Regions from separate parts of the Homo sapiens genome. Here all the other regions are linked to region 3. Evidence: fine-mapped QTL for protein levels in blood plasma. A gene starts in region 3. Each other region holds a variant in brackets. All regions are shown on one strand. Distances are between the middles of the regions.

Evidence for each region. PIP is the posterior inclusion probability: the model's chance that the variant is causal. Protein levels are from antibody-based Olink assays in UK Biobank. Linkage for the fine-mapping came from a reference panel and not from the study's own genotypes, which makes the PIPs less certain.
Region 1: its variant is fine-mapped to the plasma level of the MGMT protein (UK Biobank, PIP above 0.99). The variant lies in the coding sequence of MGMT. If it changes the protein, the assay may bind it differently, which can mimic a change of level.
Region 2: its variant is fine-mapped to the plasma level of the MGMT protein (UK Biobank, PIP 0.95).

Annotation. Positions count from the first base shown.
Region 1 is chr10:129,704,451-129,711,540 of GRCh38, forward strand. It overlaps MGMT (O-6-methylguanine-DNA methyltransferase), which reads left to right. Exons shown (of 5, transcript NM_002412.5): 3 at 3,445-3,593. It overlaps LOC105378560 (a long non-coding RNA gene), which reads left to right and starts at 3,600. Exons shown (of 2, transcript XR_946467.3): 1 at 3,600-7,090. RefSeq lists an enhancer at 6,801-7,090. The variant C/T (reference allele first, on the strand shown) is at 3,569.
Region 2 is chr10:129,652,821-129,659,910 of GRCh38, forward strand. All of the region lies in intron 2 of MGMT (O-6-methylguanine-DNA methyltransferase), which reads left to right. Among named protein-coding and RNA genes, the nearest start is that of MIR4297, 190 kb to the right of the region's middle. The variant C/T (reference allele first, on the strand shown) is at 3,740.
Region 3 is chr10:129,463,012-129,470,101 of GRCh38, forward strand. It overlaps MGMT (O-6-methylguanine-DNA methyltransferase), which reads left to right and starts at 4,230. Exons shown (of 5, transcript NM_002412.5): 1 at 4,230-4,285. RefSeq lists silencers at 3,870-4,309, 4,330-4,529 and an enhancer at 4,096-5,018.

The DNA of each region.
Region 1 (7,090 bases), 240 kb after region 3:
GGGCACTGTCTGCGTGAGTTCCCTTGGGCAGGGATCTGGGTAAGGCGGCAGTTTGGAGAAGACCGGGGCATGTTCTGTCTGGCCGCAGTGTCCACGGGGTCAGCGTAATTTAGCCGGCTCTGCTGGGCTTGGTTCACAGGTCCGACTGCTGGTCACAGTTATCCGTGGCTGTCGGTCATCCTAGTGAGCTTCCTTCTTTTTCCCTTCATTCTCTGGCTCCTTCCTTAAAACCGTCAGGATTTGTGTGCTTGGAAACCTCTGACCACCCTCCTGCTCCACCGTGAAAAACAGTGTATGGGGGCCCCTATGTGCATCTCACCCAAAAAGGTCCATTTTTAGAAAGACCCGAGGATCTCGGCAGAGACTTTTACACCCACAAAATGCTCCAGCCCAGAGACCCAGCCTCCAGCACAGGACAGCGTGTGAGACTGGCCCGAGGTCTTCCGTCGCCGCCCCTGCTGTCGGATGACATGCACATTTCTGCACCTGCAGGACCTCAAAGCGAAGTAACCCTGGACACACCCTTCACTGGGTCTCTTTCCCCCACATCTCCCCCAACAATGGAAGGCAAGCACCGCTCCACACGAAAATAACAACACGGGTGCAGTTCTGTGCCTCTCCTTAGCTTCTCCCTGCCGCCCCGTGGGCTTGGTCATGGTGTCACCACGCACTGTAGATGTCGCAGACGCAGGCCCATGGCCGTGTGTGCCCCTGGGCATGTCTGCTGTCTTCTGGGGAAATGGAAACGCCACCATAGGCATTTACTCAGGCAGAAGCTCCAGAACTTTAGATCCCAGCTTTGCCGTTTTTAATTGTCTCTTGTTAAAATGTGAGTATCCCAGATGGAATGCAAAAGAGGTTCGTGCTGCTGAGGCCCTGGTTTCTTTTCTGAATGGATGTGCCAGGGTATTTCCGCCCACAGTACACTTTAAGCCAAAGTAATTTGTATCATCTTTAACACAAACCCAAAACACGAAAGGCTGTGTTTGTTTAACTAGACGTGTAAGCTATAGTTATCTTTATTTCCGCTTTAACTGCATAAGAGAGGAAACCTTTTTAACTATAAGGAAGGTGTTCGGCTTCCTTTTATCTCTTGCCTCATTATGTACTTTTGACTTTATTCAGATTTGTACAAGCTTGGTTTTTACCTCACAGGAAAAGCGAGAACTAATCGCTCCAGAGATCATCTGAGCTCTTTGTGTGAAGGTGTTTTAAGAAGTTGTGACTACATCTTCTTTTCTAAAACAGCCTCCAATTCTGTGATACAAAGTGAAATGCCAGTTGTTTGCAGCTCCGGGGCTGTGGTCCTCCTGGACACCAGCGGTAGCAACAGGCCCCATCCACACAGGGCTGGGGAGACAGGTCCCCTTCTGCACGGGGCCCAGGAGACAGGCCCTCATTCATACAAGGCCAGGGAGACCAGCAGAATCAGCACGGGGCCAGGGCAACAGCCCCATCCACACAGGGCCGGGCAGACAGGCTGAATCCGCACAGAGCTGGGGTTGGAGCTGAGAGTCATCCCTGACCCCAGCTTCATGGTCCTCCAGCTCTTCCCTGCACCATTGCCATGTTCTTACTGCTGCAGCCCTGCGTCAGGGCAGCTGCGGTGCCTTCTGCCTCTTGCCAGGGGCCCCCAGCCCCCACCAGTCACACTGTGGGCCGCACTCATAGGACAAAGTGCCCTTCCCGCCCTGACACGCACAGTCCTTGCCCACCTTTCTGTGAGTCTCAGTCCCCGAGGCCTCCACTCTGCGTCTACGTTCACACTGTCTGTCCTACGTCCGGGATGGCTCTGTTGCCTCCTCTCCATGGACTGGCCGTGCATACCTTGTGTGGACAGAGTTGGGACGGTGCTCCCGGCTGCATCGGCCGCCTGTGCTGGGCCACATGTCCAGGCAAGTGAAGCCTTCACTGGGACCCTCCCAGAGCAGCATGGGTGTGTCGAGGAGAAACATTCTGTAGATCTCAGCGCACGCCCCCCAAGGCAGCCCAGGAAGGAAGGGTGAAGGGCCCGCGGGAGCTGTGCGTCCACAGCATCCACAGTGCAGTGACGTTTCCCACCTTTTCACAGAAGCCTGAGGAGCAGCACTGTCTGCAGAAGGAAACTAGAAAACTTCCGTGCTCCAAGCCTGGGAAGTCCCGGGGAAGCATGCCGTTTGTCTGGGGCCTCGAGAGGCAGGGAAGGAAGGAAGGGAGTCACCTGAAGAAATCGGACCCAGGGCCAGGGCTTCCCACGGGGGTCCACAGCACTTGAAATCACAACGGGATGTGTCATGCACTCCACAGCCCCAGGTGGCAGCGGGAGACCTCCCCTTCAGGGCCATGTCCTCAGTCCGTGGAACACAGCCCCAGAAAATCCACCCCTGCTGGAGATGGGGAATCCTTTCCATGAGGGCCCACCAGGTCGAAGCCACAGATGAATGAACACCCCAAACAGAAGCAGCCACAAAACAGTCTGAAGCGACTCCCAGAGGTACAGGTTCAAACTGCAGGAAATCAAAGGGAGGAGAGTGTCCAGAAAGAACCAAGAGGGCCGCGCAGTAGCTCACACCTTTAATCCCAGCAGTTTGGGGGGCCCACGCGGGCGGATCACCTGAGGTCAGGAGTTCGAGACCAGCCTGGCCAACGTGATGAAGCCAACATGGAGAAACCCCATCTCTACTAAAGATACAAAAAGTTAGCTGGCCGTGGTGGCAGTCGCCTGTAATCCCAGCTACTAGGGAAGATGAGGCAGAAGAATCACTTGAACCCGGGATATGGAGGTTGCAGTGAGCCAAGATCGAGCCATTGTACTCCAGCCACGGCAACAAGAGCAAAACTCCGTCTCAAAACAAACAAACAAACACCAGGAAGGTTTGAGAAAGAACCAAGTAGACACAGGCACACGAGGCACAGGGCTGCCCCCGAGAGGACAGACTCACCGATGAAGGAAACACAGAGTAGGCCCTCTGGAGCGTGGGAATCAGGGGACTGCAGGTAAACCCTGAGGAATCCCCTGAACACAGCACACGGCCATGGAGGAGGCAGAACGCGTGGATGTGGCCTTGCGTTGTTGGACTCGGGGTGGGGTGGGCCGTGTGGTGCAGTCTAATGACTGTGTCGATATTTCTGGGAACTGTTTTCAATAGTGAGTGCTTGATGATTTAGGTGCAGCCGTGCCATCTGTAAGTCTTACAAAGGGACACTGTCACTTGGGTTGCCTTGCGCTGTGATGCAGACTCTCAGAACACACGTCCTGGGAGGCCTGAAGGTGGAGAGTGGTTGCGGGGCCTCGGTGCGTCCTTGCCTCACCAGTCCCCCTTTCTGCTGCACAGCTAGTTGAGACGTGTGTGCCCATGAAGCAGCCACAGGTGTTTGCCCGTTTAGATGCAGTAGGTGTTTGCTTTTCCGATGTGTGGAGGCAGGGCCCAGAGGTTTACTAAGCCCCTGTTCTCACTTTTGCAGTGCCGTGGAGGTCCCAGCCCCCGCTGCGGTTCTCGGAGGTCCGGAGCCCCTGATGCAGTGCACAGCCTGGCTGAATGCCTATTTCCACCAGCCCGAGGCTATCGAAGAGTTCCCCGTGCCGGCT[C/T]TTCACCATCCCGTTTTCCAGCAAGGTCGGTAACTAAGCCATCTGCGGTGTTTCCTTTGGGGAGCTTGACTTATTAACGATCGCTGACATCACAGTTCATTTTATTGAGTATACCAACTTGGTATTTTTACATCAGCTAAACAGAGGCAGCGTTTGGCCGAGCTGGAGGGACGGGGGTTCGCCGCCTCCACCCACTCCAACACTTGTGTTAGTTTTGGCACAGGGTTGCATAATTCTTGGCAAAGGCAATAAAAATGAAGCATGCAGATCGACTCTTGACTCTCGCTGGCTGAAAGGTTTAAATAGGAACACATCTGAATGGCAGTAAATTTTTCAATAAGCTTATTGTGAACTTCAACTATCTGCTTGCCAACAGCACAGAAAACGAGACTTGTGCGTGGACATTTAGCTATTTCCATACACTCTGTTGGTGACACTTACATCATAGCAGGTAGCAGCATTGGAGCTTCTCAAATAATTTTACATTTAATTTCTCAAACGTACCAGAGTTAGACATATTCTTTCTTAAGAGATGACTTGAGAACTTACCTGTATGTAGCCTGCTTAAGGCTTGTGATAATCTAAAACATTTCCCAGACATTTCTTTTAAAGCTTGTGTTTGGCTCTGCTCAATACAGAAATTAATTACAGCAACTAAAATCATTCCAGACACATGCCAGAAATTTATTTTGCATAGTGAGTTTTTCATAATCATTTTTGTGTATAAATGAACATATATTCATATATGATGTATATATGGAGTTGTACACTTATATATCCTTAAAGGGAAAAATTACCTTGAGATTTTAGATGTGGTGAATTTAAAGCAATTTTGAATTTCAGATCAGATTTGCTGGGTAAGCTTAACAGTATTCTAATTGCTGCGGTGCTTCTCAGCACAAAACAAACTTGAAAATGGAGAGAACTTTTCAAGGGAAGCAGGTAAAGAAACCCCTGAAGGTTGGGCTAATACCTGAGTTCACTAACCAAGTCAGACAGGCGAACATATGAAGTCATGAGCACGTTTTGTGCATAATGAACTGAAGCTGTGCAGCTATAATGAACCAGGCACCTTGCTGTCCTCTGAATCATACAGAACTGTCTCCAGAAGGGTTCAGTGGGGATCTCTAGGATGGGCAGATAGGAAGCTAGAGTGGGTGGGCCTTTACATGGAACCACAAACGTCCAAGAAACCTCTCATCATCTCTGCCCACCAATGGGCTGCTGCCAGGACAAAGGCACTACCAAAGCCTCCTGGGCTGCCGCCAGCTGGGGGCCACCTCTCCCCAGCGCCACAAGCCAGTGAGCCAATTAGACGGTGTGGGGGACCTTGCTCACTGTGCACCTGATGGGCCGGGCACAGGGCAGGATGTTGCTGAATGGCCCAAGGAAGTCAGAGATTGGTTTTGTTTATTAAAGTTGGGGCTTGGGGATCTTAGAGTGGTGAACTCTTCTCTATACGATCTCTTTTTGGGGGTTCGCCTGCCAGGAGGAGCAAGGCTGAAGAGCTGTCCAGAGGCTTTTCTTCTCCTTAAGCCTGTGAAATATGTGAGCTGAAATGTAAGGTCTCAGGACAGAAAAGTTCTCTTACAAAACCAGGGCAGGAGGTATCTGCATAATCATATGGAGGCTGGGAGAATGAGCCTGCAAACCCCTGAAGTTTACCTAAGGTTTGTTGGGCAACTTCATGAAAAACATAGGGGCAAAAGTTCCATGAAAATCGTTAGTTTTCTCCAAGTCATATGGTGGCCCTGGCCATGGAGCTAGACCCTGCTGGCCTGGTCTCACCAGGGTCCAGAGAGTGGTGTGCTCTCAGGCAGGCCAGGAAGAACCGGAGGAGGAGGCCTCCGCAGCTGCTGACAGGAGCTCCAGGGCAGGAGTGGCCAGCAAGGAAGGTGGCACCGGAAATAATCAGACACTCTCCAAACCACCCCTGCAAGCACTGAACCCCCGCTGAGCCTTTTCCCCCTCACTTCTGCCCATGGCAGTGTTTGCTGCTCCTAGAGCCGAGGACAGGCGGGCCCCTGGGGCTTCTCAGTCAAGTCCCTAGTGCTTAAGCAGAGTTGGGATTGGCCACACCTACCCCTGCCTCCCTGGCTTTCAGCCCACGCCAGGCCAGGCTGCTTCCTGGGCTGGCAGGTCATGATAGGTCTTGGTGACCAGGAAGACCTCAGAGTAGCCGCCAGGATACTGGTAAAGGCTGTCTGGCTCCCCCGTGGCCCTGCCCCTCTTGGAAAGCCCTACAGTGCGGGTGGATACCTCTAGCTGGGACGAGGTCCACTCCAGCCAAGTTTTGGGATGGTAGTGCGACAGCCGCTCACATCCTTCTCTCTTGGTGTTCTAGAACTCTGAGGCTGGCTGCAGACCCAGGGTGCTGAGCTCAGGGCCTTCTCTCGAGGGTAGGGGCTGGAGTCCCCTGGGCCAGGCCTGCCTGCGGATGGTTAGTGGTTGCTGTGGGGGCTGGGATTCCCCACCACAGCATGTGTAAGCCAGGTTTTTAACATTTAGCTCAATCGTTTACTCCTGGGCAGGGGCCAGGTGTATGGATTTTACTGTTTGAAGAAGGGGAGGTGGATGGTGGATGGTTGCTAACAGGGAGTTAATTGGTTCTCCCAGATGTGGATACGCCCCTCTCTGTCTGGCATGAGTTTGGTTTGCTCTCTGTCCAGGTTGTTATCTTGTAACATCAGTGAAATCAACAGTGAGGGGGCAGGTCTTCTAGAGGAAAAGTCTTTTGACATCTCAGAGCCGCCTGGAAGCTGTGGAGTAACAGAAATCAACCTGCTTTGCAGACTGAGAGGAGCGGGTCCATTGTAACATGGAATGAACATTTCCTTGACCAATTCCTTTTTCTGCACATTTTAATTTCTGTATATGTTTAACATACTTTTGCATATCATTTTTCACCATAGTCTCACTTCTGAGATTGAGACCAGGTTTATCTATTTCAACCTGGTTTGTCTATGTCAACATTTTTAAAAATGTGATTGTATTTGAGCTCATCCTTGAGTTCCAGCACATTGACCATTTCTTTCTGAAGGCCTGGCTGGTAAAACTTCTGACTGCGCAGTACCAAGCCCTCATCCCTTCCTCAGGCCTGTCCTGCTGCTGAAAGACCCTCTCTCCTGCACACGGCCTCTTCGCGGTACCACCTCACCTTCCAGGATTCCTCTCTGGAACGAACATGCTGTTTGTGATTTGCTTTTTAAGGCTAACCACAAAAATATGCATTACGTTGAACCATATGAAATTGCTATTTTTTAGGTTAAAACTTATCAAATACCAGAAATTTCAGATGGTTCAACTTCTTATCTTGGGGAATTTCCAAAGACAGGTTAGTAGCTAGGTAGCTGTTGAAGTATTTCTGCCAAGGGACAGTGAAGCTGCCTTTCCCGACCGGGTGTCCGGAGGTCCCCGGGGCTGCCTCATTGTGAGGTTGGGACAGGTGGGATTTCCCAGTGGGAGGGCGCTGAGGCTCTGGAAGGAAGCCTCATTGTTCTGCTGAAGGGATTAAGAGGAAAG
Region 2 (7,090 bases), 190 kb after region 3:
CCCAAGCGTGCCCGTGCACCCATGCAGCTGTGGCCGCAGTCTCCACTGTTTTGAATATTTGTTGTGTTCCTCCTGGTAGGATGCATGATGTTTTGGGACTGTGCTGGCAGCTCTGTCTTCCAGTTCCTTCCCAAGCAGTGTGGGCTGAGGGTGCCAGCAGAATGCCCGCCCCAGGACACGATCCAGTGGCTCTCGGGATCCCTCCAGGGTTGGCTGAGAATATATCAGTGGCACTGATCTTGTCCCAGAATGCTTGGTCGTCCGGTCGGCTGTGACAAAAGAGAAACATGGTCCGGGTTATACACAGCCTTTCCTTGTCTTTATTTCTAGACACCCTTTATTTCAAGACTCTACTCCACTGGACTTCATGTCCGGTTATTAATAAGCAGTTCTCGTTCTGTCATCGAGCCTGCTCTGGAGTTAACTGTCAAATAATCTGAACTAAAAAGTTAAATCATATAGGCTTTGAAAATTAGCATCCCTAAGTCTCTGTCCTTTTGTATTTGAAAACATTGATCATTTTCCACCCCCTCAGGATGGCCAGTATCCTCTGGATTTATTGCTAACAGTAACTGCTCAGTTTCACACCCATCCTGAAACCATTTGAGGTGATCCTGTAATTGCCATGTGTGTGTATTACTAATCAAGGCTGCTCCCTCTACAAAACACTGAGTGGCCCCCAGGCCGAGGTGCTGCAGAGATGGCCCGTGTGGGAGGGGTAACGCCTGCAAACCCGACCCTGATCACCAATGGAGTGGCCTCACGTGGCCTCCCTGATGGTGGCCCTTGACTGTGGTCAGCACTGGACTGGCCCACCCTATGAGATGTCTCAGGCAGCTTGCAAGATTACATCATGTGATGGCCAATGCTTCTGCTAAACAAGAGGCAGGGAGCCGAATGGACAGGCCTCAGGAAGCACAGCGTGGTGGCCGTCACAGCCTTCTGGGAAGGCTATTTCTGCATCACTGAGGCCCCACAGCCCAGGGTGTTTAGGATGAAGGGCACAGATTTCCAGATGTGAAGAGTGTCAGGTGGGCTAGGGGCAGGAGAAGCATGAGGAGGACCCTGTGCTGGGGATGAGAGGAGAGCGGCCCTGCAGTCAAGGGGCCAGGTGGAGCCACCTTTGGGGATGCGGGGAGAACTTGGTGGCCCTCAGAGACCCCTGCTTGGAGACCCCACCTCCCCCTTGACAAGACTGCGGCCTGTGCTGGGCACAGCTGGCCCAGAGCGAGGGCCACACCCTACTACTGCACCCTCCACGCCTGTCTGTCCTTGCCCACCTCGGTGGCTGCCTCGCCGACCCCCGCCTTGCAGCTGGAGTAGCTGTGCTGATAAAGATGCAGGTGGGAAGCTGGATGGTGAGGTAGCCCATCTGTGGTTTGGGATCCGAGAAGACGGCAAGACCTCAGCTTCATGAGAAGAGAGACCTGAAGATCCATGCTGGGGAAGGGCGAGGATGGAAAGGGGTGCAGGGCGTGGAGCAGGTGCCCAGGTCGGGTACAGAGACAGGCCTGGGACCTGGAGGACCTGCACGCGGGGTCGGGCACCTGCCACACTCTCCCATGTCTTTGAAGCCTCTTGTGGTAGAAGAGAAGGTGCTCATATTTTACCTTCTGTGCCTTAGTATGTAGTTTGGTATTGTGTTAAGTGGACAGAAATCACATACCCCTGCTCACTCTGAGCCTGCATCCTTTGACCGTCACTGTGAACCTCAGATCGAGACACCAGCCTCAGCGGGGGCTGAGATAGGGCATTCCCCATTCCCACTGGCTGCTTGGAGGGCTGTGAGGGACCTGCTGCCTGGAGCACAGGGCCTGTATGGGTGGGTAAGTCCCTGGAGAGACAGGAGGAGGCAGGGGTGTGCAAGCCTCTTGAGGTATGAGGAAGGTGGCCGGGGTCTCGGGAAGCTTGTCTGGCCCTGGCAGGCAGGACAAGGGCCCCCTCCTGCCCATACCTCTACCTTAGGCCCCTTGTCATGACACGTGATACCTGAGGGTGGGGGGCTGTATGGGCATTTGGAATGTGACGGCACAAGCCACAGTGGGTCACTTGTTTCTACAAATGCCTGAGAAGAAAACTATTCTTCTAACTCAGAGAAGTGGGATTTCCCACTGAAAATCAGTGGAAATCACTTATAATGGTCTTTGCAAATTCCTTGCATCTAAGGAAGTGCCTGTGGAGCAGCAGTGGGAGGAAACCATTCAGGCTCGATGGAGAGGGTGACCGCTGCACCCTCATCCCTGGTGTCAGCACACTACCGAGGTGCTCCTGGTTTAAGGACGTTTGTGCACCCACCCGGAGGTATGCATGGAAAGAAAGCACTGCAGCCATTCCCCAGCCAGTGTAGGGGTGGGACACAGTCCCGTGGGGGCCCCGCGGAGGGCCTGGGCAGATGCAGGGCTGCGCACTGCCGTGGTTTCCTGTGTGTCTGCCAGGAGTGAAGACCTGAGCAGCCTCACTGGCCTGGTGTGGAGGGGCCGCCTCCGAGCATGCGGAGAAGTGGTTTGCATGGCTGGAAGTCAATGTTTATCTGTCTTTAGACTCAGTTGAAGACACATTTCTTTCACACATTACCATTTTTAAAACCCATTAAGGTCTGATTTTCCAAGGCGCTGACCCTGACGCTTCTAGAGGGCCTCATCCCGGAAGCTGGTGGGGAGAGCAGGAAAATCTTCCCCGTTGAGTTTTAAACGTCCAGACCTTTGTTGTCTCCTTGTGACCCTTGCAGGAGAGCTCTCGTGGCTTCTGTGCATGTTCGTGTGTGACTCGCCCGGCTGAGGGACTGGCATAAACAAACAGGGATGAGTTTGTAAAACACTTTGTAATCCCTTGAAAAGGAGAAAAATATAAATGAAAATCACTGTTTAACAGTGAAGGCAGGAAGGGAGCTGTTCCTCAGTATAGCTGTGGGTTGTCGTTACGTGAGCAGGAGGGAATTTCACTTTGGATGGATTTGGATTTTCTCTTCATGCTCATGCTCTCTAAATCTTGCAAAAGCACATGGTAAACACACAGCGCATGTGTTTCTGGAGGAAACGCACAGTGTCCATATAGAGCAGGCACTGATTTTGCACTGAAAGAACGTGGATGAGAAGTTCCACGTGTTTAAATAAACTGGCAACAGCGGTCCCAGATAGCTTAGCCGGGCAGCAGTCAGAGGTGCCCTGGCCTGGGGACTGAGCTAAGGTCTCAGAAGGGTCAGCTAGCCAAGCTCTTCACCGGACAACCCCTGAATTAACCAGACACATCACAGATGCAGACTGTTGATTCCAGGGAACCCAGGTGAAAGGCCAAGGAGAGGTGAGGTAGTTGGTGCGGTGCCCCTCCTGGAGTCCCTTCAGGACTATGGCACTACAGTTCTATGTAAGCTGTCACCCAGGACTCATCTTCAGTGGAGTCTGGACTGCAGTCGGGAGGTGACAAACATCCATGGCATGAGGGCAGCAAGAGCCCCTCTCTTGGGAACCAGTTGTGGCCACTATCTGCCCAGTGAACATGGGCTTCAGCCCCGAGCATGGGAGGGCTCCTGGTTGGGCATCTCCCTGGGAGTTCCTTGGTACTGCCTCCTGCAGGGTGAGGAGGGGTGGGGCCTACTTCCAGGCCTCTGGAAGCAGCATCGGCATGTCCTTTCTGGTGTGAACTCCAAATATCTGAGATGGTCTCAGTTAATTTAGAAAGTTTATTTTGCCAAGATTAAGGACATGCGCCTGTGACCCAGCCTCAGGAGGTCCTGATGACA[C/T]GTGCCCCAGGTGGTCGGGGCACCGCTTGGTTTTATAGATTTTAGAGAGACATGATACATCAATTAATATATGTAAGAAGTACATTGGTTCTGTCCAGAAAGGCAGGGACAACTCGAAGCAGGGAAGGGGCTTCCAGGTCACAGGTAGGTGAGAGTCAAGTGGTTGCACCGAGTTTCTGATAAGCCTCTCCAAAGGAGGCAATCAGAGATGTCTTTCTCTCTGTGAGCAGAGGGATGACTGAATACAACGGGAGGCAGGTTGGCCCTGAGCAGTTTCCAGCTTGACTTTCCCCTTTAGATTAGTAATTTGGGGGCCCCAAGGTTCTCCTTTCATGCTGGGAGGAGGGTTTTTCCACACGTCTCAGACCCAACTCTCGGGCTTCTTAACCCAAAAGAACTTCCACGCAGAAGGCAGCGAAAATAGTGCACTTCATTTTCTAAGACATCTAAAGCTGCCACAATGACTGTGAGTTAGGTGAGCTCTATGAATTAGGCTAGGGATTTGCAACCACTTAGCAAGTTCTAAGTAACTGTAAAAGATCCCATAGACTGCAAATTGTGTTTCATTTGGGGACAGATACCCTGTCTTGGGGATTTAAGTGTGTTTACCTGCCCAGAGTTGACACAGACGACTGTCCCTTAGCTTCCTTTCCTCATGCTGGTTTTAAGTGCTTCGAATCGGGATTTTCCTACCCATCTGATGCATTCCATTGAAAATTCAGGAATACACATGTATGTGACTGTTTATTGGCAAGTAATTGTGAAATAGGCCAGAAATCTACCAGCTTCCTTTAATTAATGTAACAAATACTTAGCAAGGACCTCCTGCATTCTAGGGATTGTGGGGGTGGGGGGGGGAGCAACAAACAAAACAGATAAACCCTGCCCTGAGGCGCCCCTTGTCTTGTCTGGGGGTGGAGGTGGGGCAGGCGTGAGACAGAAGAAACAGGTAAAATACAGTTCAAAGTCAGGTGCTGGTCAGTGTCTTGGAGAATTCTAAAGCAGGGAGGAGGGATGGGGTGAGTTTTAAATGTGGTGACTGCTGAAGAAATGGCCTCTGACAGCCTGGAGGAGGAGCTGGAGCTGGGGGGGGGACAGGCTGGCCAGCTCCTCCAACACACACACACACACACACACACACACACACGCACACACACACACACACACACCCCCTCTCCCCCAAGGACCCACAAGGACTGCGGCCTCTTAGCGTGTGTGGAGTCATCACACTGACCCTTAGCAGTGTGGCCTGACTTCATGAGGCCCCCGTTGTCATGGAGATGCTGGGAATGGGAGGATTTGCCACCCTCCAGTGAGGAGCCCCCATCCCATGAGTGCAAAGCCTGAACCGGCCCTTCCCTAATTGGCACCTCTATCCTATTTTCTTTGGCTGAGGAAATTCTCGTAAATGTATATTTAATGTGGTGTTGAGATTGGTAGTTCTCCCCCATCCCCCAAAGATCATCAAATCTCTGGGGGTCTTTCAAAACCTAAAGGTGATCTCCCTGGTCCTATTATGCTGTTTTGTTTTTGCTTCTTTTCTTTTTCTTGAAAGACCTAATTGTGGAGTTTTTTCCCCCTTCTATGAATCCCAAGTAAGGAACTAAAATGGAAGACGGGCTTCTGGCTCCCGCTGCAGCAGATGGGATAATTCTACAGGTGATTGCCCTGGAGGTCTGCAAGGGAGGGAGAGCGGCACCATTAGACTAACACAGCTCTATTATTGACTAATGACGAACAGCGTCGCCTTGCCTTGCCACCTTAAAACAGACACAGGGATTTGCTACTCTATTTGTTTTATAAAATATGCATTGAGAGCAACACCAAAATGCTGAATGACAGGTGACCCTCAGAGCACGCCTGGTATGCACTGCGTTAGCTTGCCAGTATTTCTTAGAGACTTATTTGATTCTAATTCAGTAGGATTTTTAACCCCAACATTTTGAAATCTTGCTTTGAAAGTCCATGTTATTCCCATTAACGTCAGTGAGTTTTTCACATATCTAAATATCTAATATCATGCTTTGAGAATTGAAGCCCAGCCTGCTCTTTAAAAGCAAGGGAGCTCACCACATCCTGGAGTTCTGCAGTGATTTGACATGTCCTGGAAGAAATTATCTTCGCAAGAAAGTAAGTTTAGTTGATTGAAATGAAATTAACACCACATTTCTGTGTCATAATGTATTAACCTGATTGGCTAGCTGGATTCCAGCCTGTTTACAAACATCCTGAAGCCTAGATGGCCCCTTCCTCAGTGTCCTTAACTGCTGTTCTCGCCCTTAGCTCGCGTGCCCAACCCTAAGGCTGAAAACGCCCCCTGTAGGCTACTGTAAGCTGTAGCATTCAAGGCCTCCCAGGTGTCGCTGTAATTTCTTGTATACATTTTAGCTCCATCTGTGGCATAGGTACCATTCAATGTTATCTTAATACACTAGCTTTGGATTTTGTGGCTGCAACAATAACAAAAAAAAATCCTTGGTTCTGATGACTTCATGTTGTTTCAGAAGATACTCAAGGCCGGGTGCAGTGGCTCACACCTGTAATCCCAACACTTTGGGAGGCCGAGGCAGGTGGATTACCTAAGGTCAGGAGTTCGAGACCAGCCTGGCCAACACAGTGAAACCCCATCTCTACTAAAAATACAAAACTTACCTGGGCATGGTGGTGCACACCCGTAGTCTCAGCTACTCGGGAGGCTGAGGCAGGAGAATTGCTTGAACCTGGGAGGCGGAGGTTGCAGTGAGCCAAGATCGCACCACTGCGCTCCAGCCTGGGTGGCAGAGCGAGACTCCCTGTGTGGAAAAAAAAAAAAAAGATACTCAGATGTAGCTGTCTCTGCCTGGGTTGTTTTCTAAATGCGTTTGGCTGGAGATAGAACAGATCCTGCCTCTATCCACGGCGTAAGGGAGTTAGCTTCATGGCAAGCTCTCTGGAGAACACAGGCCATTGTACCTGCTCATGAGAACAGAAGTGAAAGTCACACAGCATGCATATTAGTTCCGAGGCTACTGGCATTATTATTTAATGATGAGTTAGTGCAAATTGAGGGGTGAGGAAGTAGCATGTACAAAGGCCCTGAAGATGAATGACTGTGTGAAATTTTGAAGAGCAGTTTAGCCCGAAAATATTCCATGAGTAGCTGCCAGGAGAGCTTTTCTGGAACAGTATTAAACTTTAGAAAAAGTGTTCTGACATTTATAGACTGACACGAAAACAGAAGTAAAAGTCTAAATTGAACCAAAGTCCTCCTTAAAGATTGCCTTTGAAATTGAGTAATGGCGGATGCCCAGCACCTGATGTTTGGGCACGGGCGACAGGACGTAGGGTGGTCATCCGAATATCCCTGCCCCA
Region 3 (7,090 bases):
AAAGAGAAAAAAAAAAAAAAGAAAAAAAAGAAAGGGCTTCCTGCAGGGACAGTCAGTGCAGGAAAGGGCCTCTTTCGTACTCCCACTGCCCCTACGCATCTCCTGGGTAGAGGTCGCTGCTCCAGAGAGCAAACTATTTCCTCATCTGTGTGCCATTCCACTACAAGCCCCACAGGGGCCTGCAACGAGTCCCATAAATCCATCTCCAGGCCCTGCACCCACAAACTGGCAAAGGAAGTTTCAGGAAAAGTCTTTCTAATAGGAGTCTGTGGGCTGCCTCTGGTTCGTTTCTTTAGGAATTCTCCTCCATGCCCTTCTTGACACAAAAGGGCCTGAAGGGTTCCAGTTCTCAACAGGAGCTCCCAGGGGCTCCTGGCAGGAGGATGTTCTGCCTCTTTGGAGGAAAGCAAGAGCTAAGGAGCCCCTCCTGTTTTAGTTGCACCTCCATCCCCTTTCTCCACCCTGCACCATTCCCTTACCCTCTATGTGAGGCAAAGCCTGAAGTCCCTCCTTCCCGCCCTCTCTCCTGCCCACTAGTAGATTACACTCCCTGCTGCAGTTACACCATGATGCCTCTGCCATGCTGACAACTAGTGTCACACAGGAGCGTAATCAGAAGCACCTGGCATTCAACCCCGGTACCGATGGCCCCCACCTTTTCATTTCAGGCTTCTTCCTCCAGAGTGCTTGAGGCTCCCTGGCCTCCTGGCCTCTCCCAGGTCCAAGGCGCTGACTCCAGCTCTTGGCTCCAACATTTACAGGAACACTGGGACTAAGAAAATCAATTGTGTTAATCAGCAAAACCCTCCACTTGAGATGCTATCCTAAAAGCAAACTATATGTAAAACACTTAACGTGGGGAGCTCTGTAATATGTTTCTTTTGTTACACGACCATCACACATTTGTCCGGAGTTTGGGGCTTTCAAACCACATAAGGTTTTATGTGATCGTTATAAAATCCCTTCATTTCCCAAAGGTAGGGTAGTAAGGATTAAGTTTGACTACTGAAGGCAGCTTTGTTGTAAGTGGTCTCTAATGTCACAAAAGTAGCTTGGGAAGACAGGCTTATTAAACAAATTTCTTGGGTTGCAAATCATTAGAAGCAATCGCATGTCATGTTCATTTGCTTAACCCGAAAGGTATCCATTTGGATGTTTAAAGAAACTATGCAGATTAACATTGTTCCCAGTGCCCACAAGAAAGCTGGCTGATCTTAAAGGAAATCCAGGGAGCTCCTTGAGGAAGTCGGACTGCAGTTGAGCATACCCTTTTGTGGTTTTCCCACCTCTTTTGTAAAAAGTTCTTCATAGGAATCTGTGTCTGGAGGAAAAGGGGTTGTGATTTGTTAATCTGAAGATGGGAGACCTCAAAGGAATCTCACCCAACCAGTCCTGCACTGTCATCCTATGAACAGAGAAGTCAGGTGGTTGCTCAGTGAGGGGCAGGGCTGGCACCACATCCGAGCCTCCCTGTCCTGTGTTCCTTACTCTTCAGTGGACCCGGCGACCTCCCGGCTTTGGAGCCATCCTGTGTTCCTTTAACAGTAGGACGAACACACAGGCGATGATGAGATTGTAATGGGACAAGGGGGAGAGGCGTGGGGAGCTCTTGATGAAAACTTGGGTTTTTGAAATTACCATGATGAAGGGAGGAGCTTGCACCAGCAGGTGTAAGGAGTGTGAGTTTGAGTTCTGCTCATCAGACAGCCTAAGCAGTCACATCCTTGAATCCTGGTCTTTTGCAGGCCAGTCCTTGGTCAGGTGGTGGCCTTTTTCCTCTTTCCCCTCTGCACTGAGACCCTTATTTGGCTCCTGATCCTGGAGCCCCTGACACAGTCCTTACCACTGAAGTAGCTGTGGCCCTTCACATAGTTCTTCCCACCACGCCAGCAAGGGGACTGAGTTCTTTCAGTACAGCCAGGGCCAGGTCCACACATCTCCCTGGGAAGCCAGCACTTTCTCTCGTGGACCGCCTCCCCATTCCCACAGGGCCCTCCTAAAGGGCCTTTGGATGACCACATTGGCCTTTCTTTCCTAGGGTGGGGAATTAGAGATGCTAAGACTGGCCAGTCTCTTTTTCTTAAGAGTTTAGGGATTCGTCTTAAAATATTATTCAGATAAACGTATGAGTCATGTGTTAACTGCAAAACTACTTAACAGCACACTTGTTAGAATATCAGTCGGCACTCTGATTCCATTTCGGCATTGTTTTTCCTTTGGTTCTATTAAGATCCCGGTTCTAACTGGGTCCTGGTAGTAACAGGCTGTAAGTGGCCAGGTGTATAGCATTATTTCTTAGTAGTGTGGTGTGGTGCTGGTGGTTTATTTTCCCTATGCACACATGCCCTAATATGGAAGGATAGTTTGTACACACGTAGGGTACGTTATCATGAGACTCCTTTACAGAGTATGAAACTGAGGATTAGAGAAGTCAGACGAGTTTCCCGAAGTCTTATAGAAGGCTAATGGAAAAAACCAGAGCCAAGGGCAAACATGTTTCATCTGTCCTTCCACATTAGTTTAAATGTGAATGGCTGCTTGGAACACAGTGTTGAGAAGGATTCCGAGGCTGTGTCCAGGTTCAGTGGGGAAAAAGTGCCTTGATTTGACCATTATATCGTGTACTCAGGGCCTAGTTTATTTCCCACAAGCAGCTATTTAAAACATGTCTCATCCAAGGCAGGGTCGGGGTGGGGAACCTCAGAGGATCAATGATGCAGCCTGTATTGTCACCAGGGCTCATCCCAAAGCAAATCCTGCTGAAGTTCTCCTCTGAACAACCCTTATCACTCATGCTAATATGTTGGATCCTGCAAGTCACAAATACGAAGGTATGAGCATTGGCCGAATCCCAACAGGGAAACTTCACCGGGAAGGTGAAGACCCCTTTCCATTAAGATAACAAACAGAACCTAGAAGGCCCGTAGCATGGTGGCTTAGAACATGTGGGCCTTGGATGGGATCCTGCCAAGGGGTGTGTGACCTCTCCGAAGCCTCCAGGGATGATACTACTCCCTGGGGTGCTTATGCCAACCACGTTAGAGACAATGGTTTCTGTACCCATTGCCTGGGGCTGCCATAATAAAGTGCCACACACTGAGTGGCTTAAAACAACAGAAACCTATTGTCTCACACTTCCGGGGGCCAGAAGTTTGAAACCCAGGTGTGTTAGGATCCTGCTCCCTCTGAAGGCTCCAGGGAAGAGTGTCCTCTGCTCCCTCCGAAGGCTCCAGGGAAGGGTCTGTCCTCTTAGGCTTCTGGTGGCTTGCAGGTGCAGCCCTCCAATCCTCCTCCCCAAGCGGCCTTCTGCCTATAAGGACACGAGTCATACTGGATGAGGGGCCCACTAATTGATGGCTTCTGTAAAGTCCCCATCTCCAAATAAGGTCACATTGTGAGGTACTGGGAGTTAGGACTCCAACATAGCTTCTCTGGTGGACACAATTCAACTCCTAATAACGTCCACACAACCCCAAGCAGGGCCTGGCACCCTGTGTGCTCTCTGGAGAGCGGCTGAGTCAGGCTCTGGCAGTGTCTAGGCCATCGGTGACTGCAGCCCCTGGACGGCATCGCCCACCACAGGCCCTGGAGGCTGCCCCCACGGCCCCCTGACAGGGTCTCTGCTGGTCTGGGGGTCCCTGACTAGGGGAGCGGCACCAGGAGGGGAGAGACTCGCGCTCCGGGCTCAGCGTAGCCGCCCCGAGCAGGACCGGGATTCTCACTAAGCGGGCGCCGTCCTACGACCCCCGCGCGCTTTCAGGACCACTCGGGCACGTGGCAGGTCGCTTGCACGCCCGCGGACTATCCCTGTGACAGGAAAAGGTACGGGCCATTTGGCAAACTAAGGCACAGAGCCTCAGGCGGAAGCTGGGAAGGCGCCGCCCGGCTTGTACCGGCCGAAGGGCCATCCGGGTCAGGCGCACAGGGCAGCGGCGCTGCCGGAGGACCAGGGCCGGCGTGCCGGCGTCCAGCGAGGATGCGCAGACTGCCTCAGGCCCGGCGCCGCCGCACAGGGCATGCGCCGACCCGGTCGGGCGGGAACACCCCGCCCCTCCCGGGCTCCGCCCCAGCTCCGCCCCCGCGCGCCCCGGCCCCGCCCCCGCGCGCTCTCTTGCTTTTCTCAGGTCCTCGGCTCCGCCCCGCTCTAGACCCCGCCCCACGCCGCCATCCCCGTGCCCCTCGGCCCCGCCCCCGCGCCCCGGATATGCTGGGACAGCCCGCGCCCCTAGAACGCTTTGCGTCCCGACGCCCGCAGGTCCTCGCGGTGCGCACCGTTTGCGACTTGGTGAGTGTCTGGGTCGCCTCGCTCCCGGAAGAGTGCGGAGCTCTCCCTCGGGACGGTGGCAGCCTCGAGTGGTCCTGCAGGCGCCCTCACTTCGCCGTCGGGTGTGGGGCCGCCCTGACCCCCACCCATCCCGGGCGAGCTCCAGGTGCGCCCCAAGTGCCTCCCAGGTGTTGCCCAGCCTTTCCCCGGGCCTGGGGTTCCTGGACTAGGCTGCGCTGCAGTGACTGTGGACTGGCGTGTGGCGGGGGTCGTGGCAGCCCCTGCCTTACCTCTAGGTGCCAGCCCCAGGCCCGGGCCCCGGGTTCTTCCTACCCTTCCATGCTGCCAGCTTTCCCTCCGCCAGCTGCTCCAGGAAGCTTCCAGAAGCCCCTGCGCGGGCCTTGGCTTGCAGCAACCCTTTAGCATACTTAGGCAGAGTCCCATATTTCCTTCCTGCTGGAGGCCAAGTTCTAGGGGCCTTCTGGTTACTATGGCTGGTGTTTGTGTACATCATACCCTAACTGTATTCATCAACACTTAGAGTAAGCAAGGCTCGCTGGAGAGCCACACACACTGGGCACCGTAATGTCGGTTATAACACCGCAGAGGAGTTCTGAACTATGTATTTCGCACTCCTGGGTTCATCATCTCCTGAAATCTCAGGGTGGTGTTTGCTCTCAGTTGCTTCAGCTGAGTAGCTGGCTTTCTGTCCTGGAAAGCAGACTTTGTACATGTGTGTGCAACCTATGCCTGCTGAGATCATCATCAGACAGGGAAGCGGCTTGGTCCAGAGAGCTGTTCTCAGTAGAATGTTAAGCACAGAGAGCTGAGAATTAGACTGGTTATTTACATAGACATCCAAATAGAAACCTATAGAGTATCTGTTAAGTCAGGCTCTCCCGTCATCTCCCCCATCCCTGGGCAGGTGTCTAGGAGATGGTTTTGTTATTTTCAGGGCCCTCTCAATGGCTAAAACACTCTGGGAGATGAACAAGATTTTAAAAACCCAAAGCTTAGCGCACCTGGTGGGTGGGGGTGTGAAAACTTTGAAGGAAACCGCGTCAAGAGCCTGGCTGATTGTTAATATCACGTTAACTCAGAGGGCCAGGATACTTGCCCAGACCCGGAGTCTGCCTGCAAGTAGCAGAGGAGAGCTGGCCTTGCTCTGCCGCGTGTCTTTCTTCCTGGGCCCTCTGTCTCGGGTTGGAATTTGAATAGTGGAGTAGTGTCTGCCACAGTCAGGGGCCTGGATGAAGTAGACCACCAGTACGGAGCTATACTCAGGTACTTTTCAATGTATATATCTTCATTAAAAAAAAAAAATCTGGGCCAGGCACAGTGGGTCACGCCTGTAATCTCAGCACTTTGGGAGGCCGAGGTGGGTGGATCACCTGAAGTCAGGAGTTTGAGACCAGCCTGGCCAACATGGTGAAACCCAGTTTCTACTAAAAACACAAAAATTATCCAGGCGTGGTGGTGCATGCTGGTAATCCCAGTTACTTGGGAGACTGAGGCAGGAGAATTGCTTGAACCTGGGAGGCGGAGGTTGCAGTGAGCCGAGATTGCGCCATTGCACTCCAACCTGGGCGACGAGAGTGAAACTGTCCTGAAGGGGAAACAAAAAAATCTGTATCAAAATAAGGATTTAACTAATAGTATTAGGCACTACTTTAAAAAGGCTTTGCTGTTAGTAAGGTTGAAAGAAATAGAGCCCTAGGTATACATTGGGTAGCACCTTGTTCAGCTGCTCAGATTCTTGAACCTTGTTGAGGTCTTACTTTGATATCACCTGGGCCTTACTTTTCGTTGTTTGGGTTTCCTCCCCAGGTGTCTCAATCAGGGCCTCCTCTGTCCTTTTGCAGGGAAGAAGGGGGTAGGAAGGGCCTGAAAAAGAACTTGCCTTCCCCATTGCCCCCTCAGAGTTTGTTCCTCTCCAGTCCTCTTCCCACCCTTTCTTAGGACACCAAAACCCTGACTCTTTCAGTATTTTATAATAAAATAAAGTTACTAAATTGTCTGTTCTGTTTTGCAGAGGACACACATTTAGGAGCCAGTGATTCAGACCTTCCATTTTTCTTTTTGGTGCTAATGCTCTTTTCAGTATATTCTCTTTGATAGAAAAAAAATGGAGGCAAAACTGAATTTTCTGCATTATCTTTTCCTTTAGCATTATTCTTGTTTCTGCACTTCATTCTGACCCCCTTCCCCAGCATAAAGTTCCATGTCCAGATCCACTTGCCCTGAGATTTTTGACTTCCGTTTGGGACTCTAGTCCCTCCAGGGGACACATTGAGCCTCCCAGACCCTGCAGGGCCCTGTGCTCATTCGGCTCTTGGGCTGTTGCTACGGTCCTTCCTGACCCTCTGTTTCCTGGGACAAGTAGTTTTTAATGCAGCTACTTTCTGAAAGAGCTGGGGTCTTACCGCAGAATATTATTTTATTATTTTTAGAGACAAGGTCTTGGTCTTTCGCCCAGGCTGGAGTGCAGTGGTGAGATCATAGCTCCCTGCAGCCTCAAGCTCCTGGGCTCAAGCGAACCTCCTGCTTTGACCTCCCAAGTACCAGGGACTACAGGTGTGCGCCACCATACCTGGCTAATTGTTGTTGTTGTTGTTTTTAGAGGCCAGGGTCTCCGTATGTTGCCTAGGGTGGTCTCGAACTCCTGGACTCAAGTGATCTTCCCTCCTAGGCCTCCCAAAGTGCTGGAATTATAGGCATGAGCCACCATGCCTGGCCTCGCAGGATATTATTTAAACGAAACCTGAAGGATTTAAAATCAGAGAAGACACATAAACCATCACCTGACTGTGGGGTGAGAGTGGTCTT